Homo sapiens: one gene and its partners. The protein of the gene in region 3 purifies or fractionates together with the protein of the main gene of each other region. This does not show direct contact. Each region holds a gene or a part of one and is shown on either strand. Other genes may lie near its edges.

The links.
Region 1: the proteins of DCP1B (region 3) and NBDY purify together in Homo sapiens (co-immunoprecipitation; one study listed by IntAct). This does not show direct contact.
Region 2: the proteins of DCP1B (region 3) and LSM14A purify together in Homo sapiens (affinity purification with mass spectrometry, with the first as the bait; one large-scale study listed by BioGRID). This does not show direct contact.
Region 4: the proteins of DCP1B (region 3) and MAP1B fractionate together in Homo sapiens (co-fractionation; one large-scale study listed by IntAct). This does not show direct contact.
Region 5: the proteins of DCP1B (region 3) and TNRC6B purify together in Homo sapiens (affinity purification with mass spectrometry; one large-scale study listed by BioGRID and IntAct). This does not show direct contact.
Region 6: the proteins of DCP1B (region 3) and E2F7 purify together in Homo sapiens (affinity purification with mass spectrometry; one study listed by BioGRID and IntAct). This does not show direct contact.

Annotation. Positions count from the first base shown.
Region 1 is NC_000023.11:56,735,061-56,738,560, reverse strand, and holds part of NBDY (negative regulator of P-body association), read right to left. Parts: intron 1,774-3,500; exon of another isoform or gene 977-1,773; intron 1-976. UniProt on the Homo sapiens protein: Promotes dispersal of P-body components and is likely to play a role in the mRNA decapping process.
Region 2 is NC_000019.10:34,179,004-34,182,503, reverse strand, and holds part of LSM14A (protein LSM14 homolog A), read right to left. Parts: intron 1-3,500. UniProt on the Homo sapiens protein: Essential for formation of P-bodies, cytoplasmic structures that provide storage sites for translationally inactive mRNAs and protect them from degradation. Acts as a repressor of mRNA translation. May play a role in mitotic spindle assembly.
Region 3 is NC_000012.12:1,945,553-1,949,005, forward strand, and holds the end of DCP1B (mRNA-decapping enzyme 1B), read right to left. Parts: intron 735-3,453; coding exon 654-734; 3' UTR 501-653; downstream 1-500. UniProt on the Homo sapiens protein: May play a role in the degradation of mRNAs, both in normal mRNA turnover and in nonsense-mediated mRNA decay. May remove the 7-methyl guanine cap structure from mRNA molecules, yielding a 5'-phosphorylated mRNA fragment and 7m-GDP.
Region 4 is NC_000005.10:72,197,975-72,201,474, reverse strand, and holds part of MAP1B (microtubule-associated protein 1B), read right to left. Parts: coding exon 1,108-3,500; intron 1-1,107. UniProt on the Homo sapiens protein: Facilitates tyrosination of alpha-tubulin in neuronal microtubules. Phosphorylated MAP1B is required for proper microtubule dynamics and plays a role in the cytoskeletal changes that accompany neuronal differentiation and neurite extension.
Region 5 is NC_000022.11:40,327,925-40,331,424, reverse strand, and holds part of TNRC6B (trinucleotide repeat-containing gene 6B protein), read right to left. Parts: 3' UTR 1-3,500.
Region 6 is NC_000012.12:77,020,751-77,024,160, reverse strand, and holds the end of E2F7 (transcription factor E2F7), read left to right. Parts: coding exon 1-146; 3' UTR 147-2,910; downstream 2,911-3,410.

The DNA of each region.
Region 1 (3,500 bases), on a different chromosome or scaffold from region 3:
ACCCTAACTTGAAGCTGGTCAGTTAAAAGTTCCAGAGGCCCAGATTTGAAACTGATGTCTAAAGTTGAGGCAGTCTCGTGGGACTAAGCCCTCAATCTGTGGGATCTGATACTTTCTGTAGGGAGATAGCTTCAGAATTGAATTGGATTGGAGAACACCCAGCTGGTGTCCACTGCAGAATTGTTTACTTGCCTGTCGGTGAGAAAAAATCCCAATACATTTGTTCACAAGCTTTCTGTGTTGGTTGCTGTGGTACAAGAGCCAAAGAAAAACTTTTTTTCCACACAATCAGTGTCAGAAGTGGGGTTGTGAGAATATAATGAGAGAAACTAAGTTTGTTTTTCTATAAACATAAAAGACAAAGAAAGGTCAAGGAATTGTTCCATATTAAAAACTGAAGAGACATGACAAGTAAATGTAATGCATCATCTTGGATTAGCACTTTGACCAAGGAAAGAAAATAACCACAAAAGACATTATTGGGACAACTGATAACATTGGAATATGGCGTAGATTATGATATTGAAACAATGTCAAATTTCTTGATTGTGACACATTTACTGAGGATGTATAAGAGGAAATCATCATTCTGAGGAAATACACACTGACATATTAAGAGGTAAAGGAGAATGATATTTGCAAACTACTGTCAAATAGGAGAAGGAGGAGAGGAAGAGAAAAACAGAATGATAAGGCAAACGTGATAAAATGTTAATTGGTGAATCTGGGTAAAGGACATTCTGGGAGTTCTTTGTAATATTCCTGGTTTTTCAAGTGTGAAATTAAATAAAAATAAAAATTTTAAAAACACAAATATAAAATTCAATAATAACTACATCAATAAATATCAATAACCACACTTTTTCTATGTATTTAATGAAAGAAAATGTTTTATATTGCCAAATTCTGTTGGGATGAGCAGCCAGTGTATAATTTTTGTATCTTGTTATAAGAAGGATTAAAAAAAATTAAAGCAGGTCAAAATGGCTGGCAAGCAGGCCATTTCAGCATCAGGCAAGTGGCTGGATGGTATTCGAAAATGGTATTACAATACTGCAGGATTCAATAAACTGGGGTTAATGAGAGATGATACAATATATGAGGATGAAGACATAAAAGAAGCCATAAGAAGGCTTCCTGAGAACCTTTATAATGACAGGATGTGTCACATTAAGAGTGCATTGGACCTGACCATGAAGCATCAGATCTTGCCTAAAGAGCAGTGGACCAAATATGAAGAGGAAAATTTCTACCTTGAACTGTATGTGCAAGAGGTTATTCGGGAAAGAAAAGAAAGAGAAGAATGGGCAAAGAAGTAATCATGTAGTTGAAGTCTGTGGATGCAGCTGTTATGAAGATGGTTAAACTTGAAACAAACAATTTTAAGAATTATTTGGTCTGCAGATGTTTTACTTTAAATAAATGTCTATTGTAATGGCTGGAGTTATTCCAAACCTTATACTGAATAACTACTGAATCCATTTACTGTTAAATTTTTTTCCAAATTTTCAAGATGTTTTTAGTAGTGTTTAACTACTTCCTGGAGCTCAGAGGCCACTTTATCAGTTTTCCTCACTGGTTGGATAGCCCATCAGTTTATGTAAGGATGTAACTTCCATGAGTTATAGCCTTATGGAAGCTACTAAATAAAAAAGGGGGTATGCACCCCCTAGTTTGCCAGGATTGAAAAACAGCCTCTTCACTGCTATCCAAATAGATTTGATTTTGCATCCTATCATTTAAAAAGAAATTCTGTATGCACTCCAACATAGGTATACTTAAGTAATATATATACTCCTGTGCTAACATGTAGACTAGAAAACAAAAAGTAGACATTAGAAAAATAGAAGTACAAAAACAAATCATACTTTTCCCCATATCCCAGTGACTTTTCCACTTTGGAAATGATTGTTATAAAGTTTAAGGGTTGGATACTCATCAGTTAAAAGTTTTAAGATTATAAGGTAATTTTTAAAAATATAAATTAGAATCATTGGCCGGGCGTGGTGGCTCACGCCTGTGGTCCCAGCACTTTGGGAGGCCGAGGCAGGCAGATCTCCTGAGGTCAGGAATTTGAGATCAGCCTGACCAACATGGTGAAACCCCGTCTCTACTAGGGATGCGGAAAATTGGCCGGGCATGGTGGCGGGCACCGGTGGTCCCAGCTGTTTGGGAGGCTGCGGCAGGAGAATTGCTTGACCCCGGGGGGCGGAGGCTGCAGTGGGCCTAGATTGCGCCACTGCACTTCAGCCTGAGCGACAGTGGCTCTGTCTCAAAAAAAAGAAAAAAATAGAATTATTCAATGTTGTCATCATTTCCACCCCTAAATTCTGAAATGCTTTCTTTGGTGGAGGTGAGAGTGTGGAGCCACAGCTAGTAGAGAAGGAACAGTAGGATATGCAGCCTCCCTGGTTTTCCAGGACGAGTCATTGCTGCGTGCGGCAGGAATGCCTTACCTCAACTAACAAAACAGTGTGAAAAACAAATTTGTGTTACATTTAAAATTTGTAAAGCAACGAGAAATGTGTGTATCATAAAGAGCATATTTAAATTTTTGCTAAAATATCAAGTCTCATATTCCCTAGGAACCACCCCCCATTTTTTTTTTTTTTTTTGCTAGTCAGATTATTTTTCTAAACCTATCTTGAAATCATGTCAATTTTCTTTTGTCTGGTTCAAGACAACTAAATCACTTGATAATGGTTTTGCTCAGGTCACATTGTGACAAGGTTTTAGTGTAGCCCTACTTCGCAGAAGGAGGCAGAAAAGACGGACTGTCTAGAACCCCCTTTAAAAGCATTTGTCTATTCAGAAAATTTTCCTGAGTAGATCTCTCCAAAGTCTCTTTTAATTGTGATTTCAAGATCACTTTTGCAGGACTCTGGTCTATTTGTTCAGACATCTACTGTGCACAATTACAAGGAGACTAGAACTGAGGCATCTCAAAGAGCACTGTCAAGGTGTGTAGGGAGCCGGGTGGGTGGAGGGAGGCTGGGCTCTGACCCTAGAAACCATGCTTATGAATGCTGTTAATGTTTAAAGCAAGCCTAAGGGCACTGCTGAAGGACAGGGGAACAAATAGAATGGACCAAGATTGAGGTATAACAAGAACTCCCAGGCTATCCACCTGCTCAAGGTAAAAAGTGTGATATTACATAGGGCAACCTCTGATTTTGTGAGAGTTCTTCCTAAAGTCACAGTGTATGCCTATTCTATGTTTCCAGATTACTTCATTCTTCCAAACGAGACCAAGTGTGCAAAAGTTCTTTGAACACTATATCAATGTTTTGTGTTCATTATAAATTATGGTTATCGTCCTGCTTGTTATGAAGACTAAGAAAGTAGATCTAGTATTTGGCTCACATAGGTGAAAAGGTGAGAATTTGTTAATCCATCAGTGAAGTCCTTTCATTTGAAAGAGAGGGCCTTTCTATTATCAAAAGCTGTCCTGTGTGAAAAATCACCATGAAAGTACCTGAAACACACAGGCTTGTTGTCCT
Region 2 (3,500 bases), on a different chromosome or scaffold from region 3:
AATCAAACCAAACCAAAAAACAAACAAACAACAACAAACCAGTGTGATCACATTTGTGAATTCCAGGAATAGAGAATTCTAAATAAAAGCTTCCAGAGAGAAAAGTGACTGAGAGTCAGACTGGCATCAGCAACCCCAGAATATTAGAAGAACAAAAAGCAGTAACTTCAAAGTTCCACAGAAAAAAGACTCTTAATTTGGAAATACATAGCCAACCAACCAGTCAAGCACAAGAAAACATAGGTTCACTAAGAAAATTTGTCACCTACATTTCCCATATATTTTATTTTTTAATTACAAAGATTCACTCAAGTAAAATTGGGAGGAGGAGAAAGAATCAACTGAGAGGTCAATATTGGAAACAAGAAACAGGAATCTGAGTATCTCTGAATAGACTAGTGAGAGATAATGGACCAGGGTAGTAGGGGTGGTCAGAGGTCAAATTCTGCATCTAGTTTGAAAGCAGAGCTGATAGGTTCGGATCACATGAGGTGAGACAGAGAGAGAGGAATTAAGGATGGCTCCAAGGTGTTTTGGTCTTACCAACTAGAATAGAGCTGTCATTTGATTAGATGGGGAAGGCTGATGGAGGAACAGGTTTGGAGCATGCTGAATTGAGATTCTAGCAGACTTCCCTACAAGTAGAGATGTTAAAGAGGCAATGGATATACAAGTCAGGAGTTCAGAGGAGAAATTCAGGCTAGAGATAGGAGTCAGTGATATACAGGTAGTATTTGAAACCAGGAACTAGATGGATGAGATCATCAAAAGAATGCAGATGATTAAATAAATGTTAACAGACAGAGAGAAAAGGGGAGATAACTGAGCCCTGGAGCTCTCCCAACATTTGGCGGCTTACAGGTTCAATCAGCCAAGGAGATTGAGAGGTAACCAGTGAGATATGAGGAAAAAAATGGCATACGATCAAGTTAAGAAAATGCTTCACAGAGAACAGACTAACTGTACCACGTAATGCTGACTGGTGAAGTAGAATGAGACTAAGAACTAACTACTGGATTTGGTAACATGGAAATCTTTGGTAATTTTGATAAGAAAACTTCATATGTAGGAATAAAAACCTTAGTAAACAGGGCTCAAAAATGAATGAACACCAGTGGTGTAGACAACTTCTTCAAGGGGTTTCGCTATAAAGGGAAGGATAGAAATGGGGTAATCATTAGAAAAGAGGAAATTCAGTTCAAGTACAGTGGGGTTTTTTGGTTGTTCTTAAGGTAGAAGAAATAACTGCCTATCTGTAAGCAGACAGAAAGATACGTTAGGGAAGGAAAAACTGAGGAGAGTAGAGAACTGCTGGAGCAATGTTCTTGAATCACCAAGAGGGGACAAATGCTGCACAAGTGGAAGGGTGGTCTTAGACAGAAATAAGAACAGTTTATCCATATTGATCAGAAAAAAACATAGAAGTCTGGGGAACAGATGCAGGTAACTGGGTATGTGAGGGGTAAGTTTATCAAAATTATCTTTCGTTTGCTGTTCTTTTCTCAGTTAACTGCTATAGAAAGCACGGTTAAGGGGCTGAAAGTGAATATGGGGGAGGTGTTGGAGGCTTGAGGAAAATGAATGGAATAGCCATGTAGAAAAGTGAAATGGATTATGGAAGTATAGTGTGACTGCTAGGAAGTGACCATGACTGCGGAGGCTAGCGAACATAAATTTAGAGTGAGGCTGGTCAGCACATCTGTGTTGATATAATCAGGGTTGTGATTTCTTGTATAAGACAGCAAGAGGGGAATGGGGTGGGGGCTGAGGGAATGTGTACTGACTGTCGTGGTTGCTCATGGAGTTGAAGCAGGATAAAGAAGGAAGTAAAGTTATGAGGGGAATGAGAGGACAGTGAAAGGCAGTAAGATGACAGTAGACTACAGTAGGTGTGAATGACTGACTGAGTTGGGCTACTAGAGAGACTGAGCACCTAGACAGAGAGGGAGATCGTGGTGGGAAATAACATGGGACAGCTATTCTCTATTAAGCACCAACATTAAACTAGTTACTTCTTTTATATCACCTCATTTAATTATCAGAATGACTCTGAAAGATGGGCATTATTATCCATCCCTATTGAAAAGATGAAGAAGTTAAAGCTAAGGTTAAATAACTTGTCCAAGACCAAAAAGCTGCTAAGTATTCCAACTGGCATTTTGGGTCGCATTTTCTTCCAGAAAAAAACAAACAAACAAAAAACCCTACAAAACTAGAATAAGGCCCTTGGGAATAAATTATTTTACAGACCAACTCACACTTTGTCCACTAAAAAACTTACTTCAAGCCAGACACTGTGGCTCACACCTGTAATCCCAGCACTTTGGGAGGCCAAGGCAGGCAGATCACTTGAGCCCAGGAGTTAGAGACCGACCTGGGCAGCATGGCAAAACCCTGTATCTACAAAAAACAGAAAATTAGCTGGGTGTGGTGGTGTGTGCCTGTGGTCCCAGCTACTTGGGAGGCTGAGGCAGGAGGATTACCTGAGCCCAGGGAGGTCAAGGCTGTGATCGTGCCACTGCACTCCAGCCTGGGCAACAGAGTGAGACTCTTGTCTCAAAACAACAACAACAAAATTTACTTCAATGGTATCTAGTTTTTAAAACAGCTAATTAATATATTATTTTATAGCATCATGAGAGAAAGACAAATTGTTTCTATAGCAAGCATCTTCTAGCACGGAATAATTAAATTCAAGTTAAACTATCTGTAGTTACTGCTATTATTACTGTGGCACTGAGTTAAATACAAAACTCCTGCTATGTATCATGCACAGATAAGATTTCTTTTTTCTTCCTACTTCCTTCCTTCTACTATTTTTTTTCTTCAGTTTTATGCTGTTTTCTTTACTTCCGACTTAGAAAATCATGGCTTACCTTACTTACCCCTACTAGAAAATGAACAGTTTCTGGCACCTGACTTCAGACTCCCAGAATTACCAAGTATTTCTGCGGACTATGTAACAATAATAAACTGTTTCCAAGGCTCCAAGTACTGGCAACATCACTAAATAGGGCAACAAAAAGAAACTGTGGCTTGAAGTTTCACTAGATCTTTGTCATTTTAGATAGTAATTTTGTGAATTGCTAGATTTAGATCCCCAAGTAATGCAAGAAATCAAATAAAGCACCCCGCAAGTATTTTATCCATCACACAAAGCTCTTCCACTCTCTCCAATAAGGTAATAGTTTATGACTATGTGACTAACATCAAGAAGTAGATAAATTATGCCAATGAGCCAGACTTAGCAGATGATTAAAGAAATCTGTTAACAATTTACTTGTTTTTCTATTCTTCCACCAATCTCTTGATTTTAAGAACAACTTATTTTAAAGGCAAGTGGCTTATATAATCGTTCTTCATAAAGTCTCTTTTCCCAGTGCAGTAGCAACCTGGTTTCCATTTGAATGATTATCCAGGTAAGCTAACTAAATGTAAGAATTTATTTTTTATAAGAATTTCATTCATTTTAGCCTATTTAGGCATCCTACTCACTTATA
Region 3 (3,453 bases):
TATCATTCCACTATCAAGACACATGCACACGTATGTTTATTGCAGCACTATTCACAATAGCAAAGACTTGGAACCAACCCAAATGTCCATTAATGATAGACTGGATAAAGAAAATACGGCATATATACACCCAGGGAATACTATGCAGCCATAAAAAAGAATGAGTTCTTGTCCTTTGCAGGGGCATGGATGAAGCTGGAAACCATCATTCTCAGCAAACTAACAAAGTAACAGAAAACCAAACACCACATGTTCTCACTCACAGGTGGGAATTGAACAATGAGAACACACGGACATAGGGAGGGGAACATCACACACTGGGGTCTGTCGCGGGGTGGGGGACTAGGGGAGGAAGCGCGTTAGGAGAAATACTAATGTAGATGATGGGTTGATGGGTGCAGCAAACCACCATGGCATGTGTATACCTATGTAACAAACCTGCATGTTCTGTACATGTACCCCAGAACTTAAAGTATAATAATAATTAAAAAACACTTGAGTATAAAAAAAAGTCTGAAACATTTTACTTCATATTACACATACTTTTTTTTTAAAAAAGGCAGAAACATTGAAGGAAACAACACTCAACATGAAAGAACCTTGTGCCGGAGTTCTAGAAGGACCTTGAAAATCAGTTTTAAAAGGCCTTGCTGTCACATAGTCTTTTTCATGGCTGCTTGAGTCATGCTGAAGAGATAGGCTTCATAGATTATATTTAAGAAGTTGTCATCATTCTGGAAAACAAATCGAAAGACCCAAGAGAATGTTACTTGGTTGGCAGACACAAAAGGCTTCCTCTGTCTTAGAGCTGAACTGGCCTTTGGATACTGAGACACTCATCTCTCCCTGTCTAACAGCTGGTGGTTTTTAATTGCATGTGTGAATGTTAAGTGGGGTTGACGGCAAGGCCGGACAGAGCTGATGGTTTTCCATGGTCAGTATGCACAGCAGCAAGAGCTCATTACATGCAGCACAGATGGGCAGCCCAGACACATGGCAGCATGGAGCAAGGTTTACTCAAGAACAGCCTGGGTCTGCTGCATGAAAAGACATGAAGCCCCAGCAGACAGAGGAGTTAGGAGGACATGATCCAAGTCAGTGGTCTCAAAGTTTGGTTAAGAGATTGCTGTGGTGTGTTTTTTTGTTTCTTGTTTTTTGGGTTTTTGAGACTGGGTCTCACTCTGTCACCCAAGCTAAAGTGCAGTAGTGCCATCATAGCTCACTGCAGCCTCAACCTCATGGGTTCAAGCGATCCTCCCACCTCAGCCTCCAGAGTAGCTAGGGCTACAGGTGCGTGCTACCATGCCTGGCTTTTAAGTTTTTTGTTAAGACAGGGTCTCACTATGTTGCTCAGGGTGGTCTTGAACTCCTGGGCTCAAGTGAGCCTCCCACTTTGGCCTCCCCAAGTGTTGGATTACAGGCATGAGCCACTGTGGTTCTTAAAGGCCCTCCAAGTCACCTACAATGTGTCTGCTTTGTTTTGGGCATTACTTAGGATTTTACTTGCAATATGCTTCATCAGTACTTCATCAAAGCTAATATAAGTCTTCCCATAAGTTATGGAAAGTTTCTAGCCTTGGCAAGTGGGCAGGAGTAAGACTGGTAATCTCTGGGCTCTTTTGCCTGGCTAAGGAGTGAGAATCACGGTCTAATCAGTGGTTTTCCTCATGTTTTAATTCTAGAGACTTCTCCCTCCCACCCAAATTCTTTACAGTGTTAGTAATTCACCCACACTTCACATTCCCCCTTCATTCCCTCTTGGCACCCCACACAGATTTAGCATCATTCTCATGCAATGAAGAGAGTGATGTTATCCCTCTTTTTCCTGCAAAGTAGTCACAAAGTTCCTCTGCATGAGATTGTGTCCTAACAAGAGGCAGAAACTAAAAACAGACTGCTTGAGTGACTGGGAATATGAGGTGTGGTACACGGGAAGAAGTAAAATGCACGCAGAGTGGAGGGCAGGGGAATGTAATTTCTAATCCGCCATGTTCAGCCACTACTCTGGAGTAGAGTCTCAAGACAATGTGAAGGGAATCAGCCAGAAAACATATGGATCTTTTAAATTACAACTTAAGAAACTGGCTCAAAGTAAAGAGGTTCACAGATGTCTAATTCCTCCTGAGCTTACTATGAATAGCTTTAAAAGGTGGCAAATATTTTTATCCTGATATTTACTTATGAATTAGTAGGGCTCAATCATTTGCTGTTGACCTTATTTATCTCTGATTGTTATTATGCTTCTGCTGACTTCTAGCCCCATTCCTTTCATTCTTCCTCAAACATGTTTCCTTCTTTTGTAGTCTCGCTATGTTGCTCAGGCTGGTCTTGAACTCCTGGCCTCAAGCAATGCTCCCACCTTGGCTTCCCAAAGTGCTGGGATTACAGGCGTGAGCAGCCACTGTGCCCGGCCAACATGGAACCTTTTTAAAAATGTTGTACTAATTGAGACCACTGTCTTTTTAAGTAGGATAAGACAACCGCAGAAGGGCTGGCCTGCTCTCTAAAGGCCGTCTGATGCTTAAGCAAAGTACCACACAAGTTTTCTTAAAGATTATCTACCAAAAAGACACCTAAATATGTTAACTGGGGTGTCTGAAGTCTGTCTGGCTACAAATGTTCCACTTTTCAAGGACTGCCGTTGATTTCTTGGGTGTGCTTTGCTAGGGCACCTGTGCTGAATGTTCTCCCGAGGCTGGTCCCTGCCAACATTCATGTGGTGAACGTGGCCCACGGGAGAGTACGTGGGAAGTGGCACTCGGGGGCCAGGCTGGGTGCATCCCAGCCCTGCTTATGTACGAGCTCCGTGCCTCAGGCCAGTTGCTCAGCCTCAGTTTCCTTGTCTGTAGAATGGGAAAAATAACAGGGTTGTTATGTAAGGAGTGAATGAGTTATATGCTTGTGTGTAGCACTGAAAATAGGGCCCGGCGCCAGCTCTGTGGAGTGTTAGCTATTATAGCACTCATTATTATTTCATAATTTCATAGGCAAGTGAGGCTAGCAGCTCACAAGGAGTCCTGTCACTCCATCCCGTCCTAATGAGCAGGTTTCAAAATGACTTGTAAAACATACCTGTAGCAGCCATGGCCATTATTTGCTTCCCTCCCTGTTTTCCACTCGCTCAGTGGCCTCTTCCCCACTCAACAGATGGCCCCTTGCCCAGGACTGCTCCCACCTCTACCTCCCAATGGTGAGTTTTCTGTCTGGGCCTCCAGCACCCAGGGTCCTCTCAGGGACTGCTTAATCCCCAGCATATGCTTCCTTCTCTTCTGACAGGTGACAGCTTGGAGGCCTTAGACAGTCCTTCAAATTACAAAATCCTTGAAGAGCTGAGACACCCAAGCCACACTTGGTATTATAAATAACACCTAGCTAACTGAGCACAGAAGCCGCTGGGGTCAGGATGAGTTGTTACACACACCTGTTATTCTCACGGAAGCTAAGCAGGCCTTG
Region 4 (3,500 bases), on a different chromosome or scaffold from region 3:
TAAATCTGAGAATCATGACCAAAAACATGAATGATCAAAAATCAGGGATACCTGCTCTTGCCAAGTGGCATTTCATTTGCTTATTTATTTATTTTTGAGAGACAGGGTCTTGCTCTGTCACCCAGGCTTGGCATGCAGTGATACATACAATTCTGGCTCACTGCAGCCTTGATCTCTTGGGCTGAAGTGATCCTCCTGCCTCAGCCTCCCAAGTAGCTAAGACTATAAGCACGTGCCACCACACCCAGCTAATTAAAAAACATTTTTTTTTTTTTGTGGAGACAGGGTCTTGCTATGTTGCACAGGCTGGTCTCAACTTCCTGGGCTGAAGCTAACCTTCCATCTCAGCCTCCCAAAGTGCTGAAATTACAGGCATGAGGCCATGCATCTAGCTTCCCAGTGGAATTTTAATCTGAAATAGCATTGAGTCTCTACTAATGAGGCCATGGGGTAAGAGAAGGGTAAGAGCAGAGCCATCAATGTTTTTCTCTCAATTTTCACCGGACACTCACTGGTCAACTGAAATTATAGTATTTTTTGGCTGATAAGAAAATGGAACACTGCCTTTAATGAGGATTTATCTCCAACCTGGTGATGTTTTAAATAAAAATGTAAACATTTTTAATTTAAAAAAAATTTTTTTTAAAAAAGGACTCTAAATCTTGGGTCTAGACTGGTTGATCCAGTCTTGATGTGAAACCTCTGGTTCTCCTTAGGCCTTTGGGAGCTCCTGGCCTGTGTTACCCTGCTGGATTCTGAGGCCAGTATGGCTGAAACCAGTCTTCCAGAAGCACCTGAAAGACACATCCTTGGTTCTGAAGATTTAGAACAGGGCTGTAGTTGCTGTGTTCGAAAACGGCACAAAATCAGGAATCCCAGTGATGAATCACAGCTGCTTTGAACCATACACTGAGCTATTTCCAAGCCTTAAGGCCACACTGGACTGAGATATATACCTTTGGGCAGAGGAGAAGAGTACAGGGAAGGTAAAGCATCAATTGTGCTCCCTCATCTTCCCAGTACAAAGCCAAACAGGGAAATATAAAGGCTGTAAACGCAAGTAGAATGGTTGTGACATATATCCAATGCCCAGCCTTCTCAACCTACCTGCAGTGGCGGTCTTGGCCGACTTGGATGCAGAGGCATTGGCAGCATTCTTGGTCTCCTTGTCTTTCTCTTCCCCACGTGCAGCTTTGACCTCAGGAGTGGTGGTGGGTTTTGCTGCCTTTTCCACAGATTCTTTCTTCTTAGGAGAAGCCACCCTGGACACTTTATCCGAGGATTCTTTCAAGCCCGCTGGTTTTGGTGAAGCTGCCAAGGGCTTAGACTTCCCATCACTCTTTTTGACAGGTGAAGATGACTTGGTCTTTGTACCTGGCTTTTTGGTTTTGGTCTTCTCTTTCAGATCTTTCTTTAGAGCTTTGCCCAGGTTCTGCTCAATGGCCAAGGCCTCTGGGTCCACCATGGACACATCAGGGTGGCGTGGCGAAGGGCTGCGGTCTTGCACGGGAGCTGGAGGTGGGTCCATGTGTTTGTACGTGACAGTTTTGTCTGTGGGGATGGTTTCCGACTCGTCTTCAGAGTCGATATTGGCATCGGCCGTGATGGAGGGGCACTCTTCAGTCTCCGGGGGAACATCAGAGTCGGTCTGGGATGGGGCTGACTCGCTGACTGAGGTGGGAGGGGTTTCATCACACTGTCGGCCCTGTTGCTTTCCTCCTGGAGGCGGTGGGGCTCCCCCTGATTGAGTGAGGGGCTTTTCAGATTCTTCAGTGGGTTCTTCACTGGCAAACCACTCAAGAGGATTGGGATTAATGAAAGAGGGTGAAAGCTCTGTCTTGGGGTGCTTGTATTCACAAGAGGACACGAGGCATAAATCGACATCCTGACGGGCTTCTGAGGGGGACTTCTTTTCTGCAGTGTAGCATAGGTCTGAAGTCTCGTAGGAATATGTGGATGCCTGAGGGGTTCTAGTGATTTTCTCTGCAGTCTCGTAACAGTATGTGGAAGTATCAGGGGTTCGTGTTGTCTTTGTAGATGTCTCATAGGAATAACCTTCAGACTCAGGGAAACTGGTAATTTTCTCAGTGGTTTCATAAGAGTAGCTGGGGTCCCCAAGTGTGTGGCCACCATCCTCAGAGTCATCATAGCCATTGCTGATGTCATCCAGAAGCCTTCTAGACCTCTCAGTCTTTTCATAGCTGTAACCACTCACTTCGGGGGGGCTGGTGGTCTTTTCACTTATGTCATATGAGTACCCACCCTCTTCAGGGGTCCGTGTGGTCTTCTCAATAATTTCATAGGAATAGTCACCATCTTCAGGGGTCTTGGTAGTTTTCCCAATGGTCTCATAGGAGTAGCCACTGTCACTTGGAGATTTTGTGGTTCTCTCTATCTTCTCATAGTAATAGCCACCCACATCTGAGGTCCGGGTGGTCTTCTCATAAGACTCATAGTCATAATCTTCTTCATCTGGGGACCTGGTTGTTTCCTCAGGCTTTTGATAGGCATAGCTAAAGTCACCAGGTGTCTTCCCTCCACTGTCCTTCTCCAGGCCAGGTGTGGACAAATCTCTATTCAAGGCTAGATGGTGTTGCATTGTATCGAATAACACTGAGGCACGGAAGCCATAGGGCTCTGCGGATGCTGCATCTATTGGTGGAGAAGAGGAACTGTGGCAAGTTGCTGTTTTCTCTTTGACTGCAGAGGTAGAATCTGAAAAAGTAGGTGAATATAAAGGAGAGGACTCTCGTGGGGTGAGTGGAGAGATATCAGATTTTGGAGAGAGCTTCTCTCCTTCCAGACTTTGCACTTTTTCAGAGGTGAGTGAGGCATATAAGGACATATCTCTGGGAGGAGCAACATCGGATAGAGTATCTTCTTGGAGAGGAGAAGCGATCTGAGAAGGGGTATGAGCAGAAGAGGTGGACGGGGAGGCCTCTACCTGAGATACTGAGATGAGCTCAGAAAGATCATTATCTTGGGTGTAGGACGGCTCCTCCATAGGTGGTATCTTATGTGATAAACTGGAGTCCTGCATGTCAGAAGGACTGTAGTCCACTTCAGTTGGCCCATTTTCAGTGATGTGAAGCACGCCTGCACCCACTGTAGGGTGATCTGGAGACTGTCGACTGAAGTCCATAGCAAGGGATTGCTCAGGAGATTCTTGGCCAAATTCAATAGACATTGAGGACTGTTCAGATCTGTGATCTTGAACGGGTGTCCTGGACTTTGCAGTTTTAGGGGAGAAATCTGGTGGAGAAATTGACATCGGTCTTGGGCATTCTTCTTTAGATGGAGACATTTCTGTTTCCTGGAATGTGGTAGGTGTTTGCACAACAGACACTGAAAGGGAGTCATCTACTTCTGTGGAATGTGGGGAGCCAACCTCAGCATGCAGAGATGGAGACACATCATCTGTTGTTGGCTCTGGAAATGAGCTCGTAGCCACTGAGGCTGTGGACACTGAGGCCACACCCTCCATATGAGAGTACGTGTCT
Region 5 (3,500 bases), on a different chromosome or scaffold from region 3:
TTTAGAAGATAGGAGTGGGGAGAAGAGGTGAAATTGTTTAAAACATAAAAACAAATAAAGACACTGCAGATTTCTGTGTTCAACTATAATAGCTCTGAAGAAATAAAATATGATTTCAGATTTTTCTCTTTTCTTTCTCAAACACTTCAATCTTAACTCTTCAAAACCCCTTTTCCTTGTGTGTAATACCCTGTTTGCATCAACAGCAACGTGATGTGACGCCCATGTGGGAATGTAATGGCCGCCTCAGGACACAGACTCAAAGGGTAAAAGCGTGCTGCCCGCTCTGCACACGGCAGAAGCTGGAAAATGCCTTGTTTACATGCATGAATGTGTCACAAGTATCACCATATTCCAATTCTCCAGTGCTTACAGAAAAACAAAAAACAAAACAGCCAAAGCCACATGAGCACAAACATACAGACGGAGAAAACTAGGGAATGCAGATGTGTAAACCTGCGCTCTTGGACTAACGTGGGTCTGCGTCGCCTGGGTACCTTCCCCTGTCTCCTCTCCCAAGTCCCAGAATCTCTTCCACTCAACTCTACACTGTGCAATATTGATGCTAATGAAATCTCAACAGCTGCTCCTGGGACTTCCAGGAGGAACTTTGACTTCCCTAATGACTAAAGCTGACCGTCTGTTTGTTTGTATCCAACGGATAGCTTCTTCCTAGAACGGACGGTCTCTGTACTCACAAAGGCACATTCAGAAATACTATACTTAAGTAATTCCTTAGACAAAATTTAAAAAGGGCGGTGGATGATGTTTTAAACACATTTATTCCAACTTATCCCAAAATTTCTGGCAAGAAGTGTCATGCTAAAATGCATCACTTGGTGAGAAACTATACTACCTTTAAAAGGTATGTAACTTCTTAAAGGGTTCCAAAGGTTTTTATTTTGTTTTGCCTAAATACCCACCTTTCCCATTTTTGGCGAACACACATAGGATGTACTGTCCTCCTCTCTGTAAAGCTCTTCTGTAGGGCTAGTCCTGGCAATAAGGCCACTCCACTTTGCCTCCAGTCAACTTTTACAGCCACCCCTCTGGGAGTTGTACACACCTTTCAGTAGCCGAAGGGGAAGGAACGCCAGATTCCGGAAGGCGGGAGAGAAAGCAAAGCACTTCCTTTCACAGCTCTGCTACAACAGCATCATAAGCCACCTTGACAACTTTCTTTTGCAGCTTACTGTGAGCAGTAAAGAGGAATTTCCCTTTTTGAAAAAAAAGAAAAAAACAAAAACCATCCCAACTTGTTGATATTGGCTAGATATGGGTCAATTATAATTGGGAATTTATTTCCAAAGCAATGATTTACAGTTTAAAAATGAAGTTGAGGCACAAAGTGCTTTAAACGGACACTATTTATTCTTTATTTAAAACAGAGTACTTCTTGCCTATTTATCTGATCTTTCCCCTCCCATGAACAAGATAAGCATTTGTCACAGTGAAGAACTGAAGACTGAGCTTTTTGCAAAGACCCTTTGGCCAAGGTAGTACCATTTTTCCTGGCCATGTACAGTTTCTTGTTAAAAACAAATTCAGGTATATAGCTAACTGAAAAGGGAACGATTTAAATTTGGTGAGGCAAACACTGGCAGTTACTGCAACTTTCGTTACTTTTTTGGGTGGCGGTAGGAGGTTATGACAAGAGACTGACAGCTTAAAAACTACTCAAATATTAGGGGTATGCCACAATCACTCGGGATCTGGTCCCGGTGGCCACACGCATGCGGGCAGTGTGGGTGCTGAGCTGCTGGAGGAGTAGCTCTCCACTCCCTGACCTGTGTCCCCCTTTACCACCTCGTAGGTTCATGGCCTCTTTCTTCAGAGGCATGGGGTGGGGAGGTATGGTGAGCAGGTTAGGGAGGGTCGATGTTGAATTTTTATTGTTATTACTATGTTCACAGATTCTTGGAGCTGATAATTATTTCAAATCTAAAGAATGTGATATTACCACCCCCTTTGTCAAACTTAAGAAAAAAAAAACACTATCACTGACAAATAGGGACCATTTCTGAAAATACACACACCTTTGGCGCTGGCCACAAACCCACAGACTGTTATCACAGGGTCTGCACTAACTCTGGAAATCTAGATAATATTCTGTTTTCTTACAGAATGACAATGTCCTCAATAGCATTATGTGTATCTGTGTGTTTCTTGACTGTATGGACTCCCTGTACTTGCAGATAAAGAAGTAAATGTAGTGCGCAGCAGGGTTTGTGAGTTCCCTATTTTCTTAACGACCATGAGGTCTGAAGACTGACAATTCATTGTATACACACAGACCAGAATATTTTCATCCGCATCATCACGCGGCTTTAGTTGTCCACTCACAGGAGGAAAAACACAATTAAAGAACAAGGCTTTTTTTTGTTTTGTTTTTGTTTTTTTTTTTTGCAGTAACACTAAGAAGTATAGTTAATGCATACACATGAAGTGTGACAAAACTTGGCAAAAACACTGCAGAGGAAAGTTTGATTTTTTTTAACCAGCGAAAAATTTATCTCACTTCTAAAGATCTTATAGATACTTAAAAACAAAAATCTCAAATCTAAAACAATAACCGATAAAGCTTTAAATGTTGAATTTTAACTCTGAGGATGGGGAAAAAATGGATCTTTTCTACATAAAGACTCAATTGTTCCCTAATCTTAGAGATGGCTATTAGAGCCAAGTCTGCTGAAAACATCCTGTTTACTCTGCAGAGAAAAACAGGCTTGGCGTAAGCATTTTGCTCAGCATGCAGACATTTTCATTCTGTTTTAGAGAAGAGTCAAGATGGCAGAATATAAAAAATGAAATTAAAAAGTACACAGCATCTGAGGTCAAAATGGAATCTGGCTGTTAACCTTACAAAAATCACCCCCTCACCCAAAAAAAAAAGTGGTAAAAATGAGTGAATAGTTGCAAAAAGTTAACAGCCTATGAGCTTCTAGTTTCTGCGAGATATATGTGTTAATAAAGGTGCTTCCAAATTCTCAGGCAGGAGTTTTATCTTTTCCTTTCTTTTTCCTCTTGCATACCTTCTATACCATATTCAACCCACAGGAGTTTGGAAGAACCGATTGCTAACTTATGCTACATTCATGTCAGAAGAGGTGGGAAAATTCTTACAACAGGAGCCATACTCATAGGAAATCAAGTTGCTATAAATAAAACTAACTAGCAATAAATGGATAAGTGATTTATTGGGGGGACACTGATTAAATAATTTGGTTTGGAACCTTAACTTGCAACACTGCTAAGTTAACTCCTATGAATGTTGTAAATGAAACACGTCCAGGGTTGGGGACTGAGGGATCAGAGATGTTACATGAGCCATCCATTTCTTCACAGTGTCTCAGAGATCTGAACTCTTTTCCACACTTAAAGTTAGGTCATGATACTGGATCTAATTGACAGCAGAGGTCCTCTGTCTGGTGTGAGACACCCCTTTCTCTATTAGTGCTTCTTTTCTTTTGGCTACTCGTGTGGTAGGTAGAAACCAAGTT
Region 6 (3,410 bases), about 75 Mb from region 3:
GCATCCAACGCACACATCGTGAGACGTTTTTCAAGACACCCGGCAGCCTTGGAGACCCTGTCCTGAAGAGAAGAGAAAGGAACCAGTCACGAAACACCAGCTCGGCCCAGAGGAGACTAGAAATCCCCAGCGGCGGCGCTGACTAACCTGCCGCTTTGCCAGGTGGGGGTGGGATCAAACGCCCTGAGAGTCCCGGATGTCCGAGGCGGGATGCAAACCATCCCGTCCTGAGCACGGGTCCTTCCTCTCTCTTTCATCCACACTTCTGTTAACTTCCCACCACCATCAATCATCTGATTTCCTGAAAGTAATTAATTGTGCATTTAATACCAGTTAGAGTTCCGACTCTGCATGGTGTCACAGTGAAAGCGCCGACTGACTTATGGTTTTGATTCAAGAATCGTCTTATTCTGGAAGTAGATCTGAATAGGCTACCGGAGCCTTGTTTTTCTAAAGGGGGGCGCTGTCTAGCACTTAACTAGGGTAAGCATTCTTAACATGTATTTCCACTTGCCCTGAGTAAATCTGTGGTGAGAGAAGCTTCCTTTCTGCAGTTTAAAAAAGCTACTGCTTCCTTAGGCTTCATCAGGAAGCCACCTTCAGTTGTGAATCCTATGGTGTTATTTATTTTGTTCCTGAAATGGGATTTAGTGCAAAAAGTTTACAACTACAGTCTTTAACACATTTTTTTCAGGGTATGACGACTTGAATGTTTATACTTTTATTCTATAATTTGCCCTGCACTTATTTTACAACCTAGTAATAATGTGGATAAATGTATCTACATGACACATGTCAAGACCAAAATAACTGTGAATGACACACCTTGCTGTAAATGAACTGTGCTAACCCTGACTGTGGGCTTGAGAACAAAGATGAACTCTAGAACTCTAGCAGCCTAACTGCTGCTTCTCAAATAACTGTGTGAACAGTGAGATATTACTGTTTGTTTCTAAAAATCCTACTGTGCCCAGTTTCCTTCACTACATGCCCTGCATTTTTTATTTAAATATTTAGCTGTAGCGCCATCAGATATGGATGCCTTCTAACAATTGCTGTTTGTAAAATAAATCAGGATGGTAGAAAGTGATTATATGGAAAATTGGAACCTGGATGAGACCTTTTCGTTGAATTCTGAAGAGTAATGATGTGAAAATTGATACAGGGCAAGAGATGATTCTTTTGTTTTTCTTCTACTTCATGTCCAGAAGAGTAAGAGGGAAAATGGACATATGTTTCATATCCAAGGGTATTCAAACTGTAGTTAGTTGGTACCTCTGAAAAATGAGAATGGTGAGCGCACGGGTTGGTTGTTCTAGCATGAATACAATTCTGGAAACTGTTATGCAATTTCCCTTTTTTAACCCACATTACTTTAGGGGTGCATTAAGTCGCCAAACTATACTAGTTCTTTGTATTCCTAGACTTGCTGATATTTACCTCTCTCTTGTCTCTTCAGAGTAAATGGTTCCCTTCTTTCCTTCCTACTTTCCTTCATTCTCTCTTCCTTCCCTCCTTCCTACTTCTTTTCTTCCTTCCTCTTCCTCTCTTAAAACTATCTTAGATGTAGAATCCTGGTGTAGGGTTTTATTTTATTTTTATTTTTTGACCCAATAAAATGTTATATGAAAGAATGAAAATATTAATTTAAGAGACTCTGGGAGTCTGAATAAAGTAGCTTTATATTAACTACAGGATAATATTAGCCTTATTACCCCCACAAGATTTTTTAAAACTTGAGGTAGGTAGCTACATTAAATAAATTTGCTACTTATATAAAAATTTTTATCAACACTAAACTTTTAAAGTTTACAAGTTTTTTTTTTCTTTTTTACAGTCTTCTATAGAGTTAGGTTAAAAATGTGGTTCTAACCATCAACAATTGCATGGTTAAATGACCCTGAACTAAAACTGATGGGTTCCCTATCAAAACAAATAAAAATATACCTTTTTCAGGTTTCAATCTGTGCAGGGTATATGCATGTTAATTCTACCATGCTTAAGAACTTCCACAAAATATTTCATGGAGAGGTCTGCATTTAGACGGAAACAGAAATTGCTTTTCCCCTCACTGTTCCTGAATGCTCTATACTTGTTTTAACATTTTTGCTATCTTTTTTTATTATTCTGATCATGATATGACCATTTAACCTCAGAATTCATAATTCCTGAGGGGTGTTAAGAAGCAGTCCCATTGGTGAGGATATTATGACTTGGTGACCATTCTTAGGAGTAGAAAACCAAGGACAATTGCTTCTGTATTCAGTATCCACTTCTTAATGTGGCTTTATATGTAAAAATAATAATGCAGTGGTTGTTTCTGTCAGGAAAATAAATCTTACAGAACAACTGGTGGAATTGAAGCTGCTGCGCTAGACTTGGATATTTTGGGTAGTGAAGAAGCAATGGCAATCTTGAGTCTATTATTGTATAATTTAGTAAAAGAAAAAAATAATCGTTGGTGGTCCTACTAAGAGAATGCAGCTTTTTTGAGTTGTCACAGAGGCTGTGTGTGCCCTACACTGACCAGGGTTTGTAAAACCCTTTCATTCTGGTACAAGAGTCGGGGGTATAACTTTTATACTTGAATCTACCTACCAAGTTTACATTTCTCAATTCCTTTTTGTAAGGTGCTATTTCTGTATTTAAATAACTTTCTTTTAACGTAAAGCTGCTTTCTGCTTATCTTATTGCACTGCTAGTTGTATGTAGGTATTAATTTTATTGCTGCTTACTGCTTTTGTTTTCTTATTATTTAGCTCTGCTCTTTTTCCTAATGGCTATATTATCTATAGCTATTTACTTGTAACTGTACTACATGTAAACTGATTTTTTGTTCTGATTTTTTTTCTAATATTTTTAGGAAAATATTAAGCTTTATAAAATAGCAATAAAAAATAATTCATTTAAGAAGAGATGGTGGTTGTATTTTTTGGTAGGCTTTTTTTGCATACTGTTTTGAGTAAAACCATTAACAGCTACAACATAGCCAACCAGGCCCTCATAAACACAAGTCAGATCTTTTTGCTGAGATCACCCCGTGGTTGCTAAATGCTGAATCTTAGTGCATCAGAATTACATGGGAGCTTGCGGGGGTTCAGGTACTGTGTAACTGAGCTTCTGATTTCTACTAAGTCCCAATCTCTGTAGGTTTGGAGCTTCCAGATGATTCTGATGTTTATCCAGTCTAGGAATCACAGGTAAATGCAGACCACCCCTCAACTTCTTGTAGCATCCATTAAGTCAAATGCTTCTCATTTTAGCTAATGCCCACCTTTCATTGAGAGCCAATTTCTATTGTTAGCCTTACTTTTAAATTGACCTGCAAGAAGACTTAATCTGATGTCCCCCTAGCTCTTTATATCTCCAGAGTGATCTATGTTGCACTGTTGTCGGACTCCCCTGCTAAA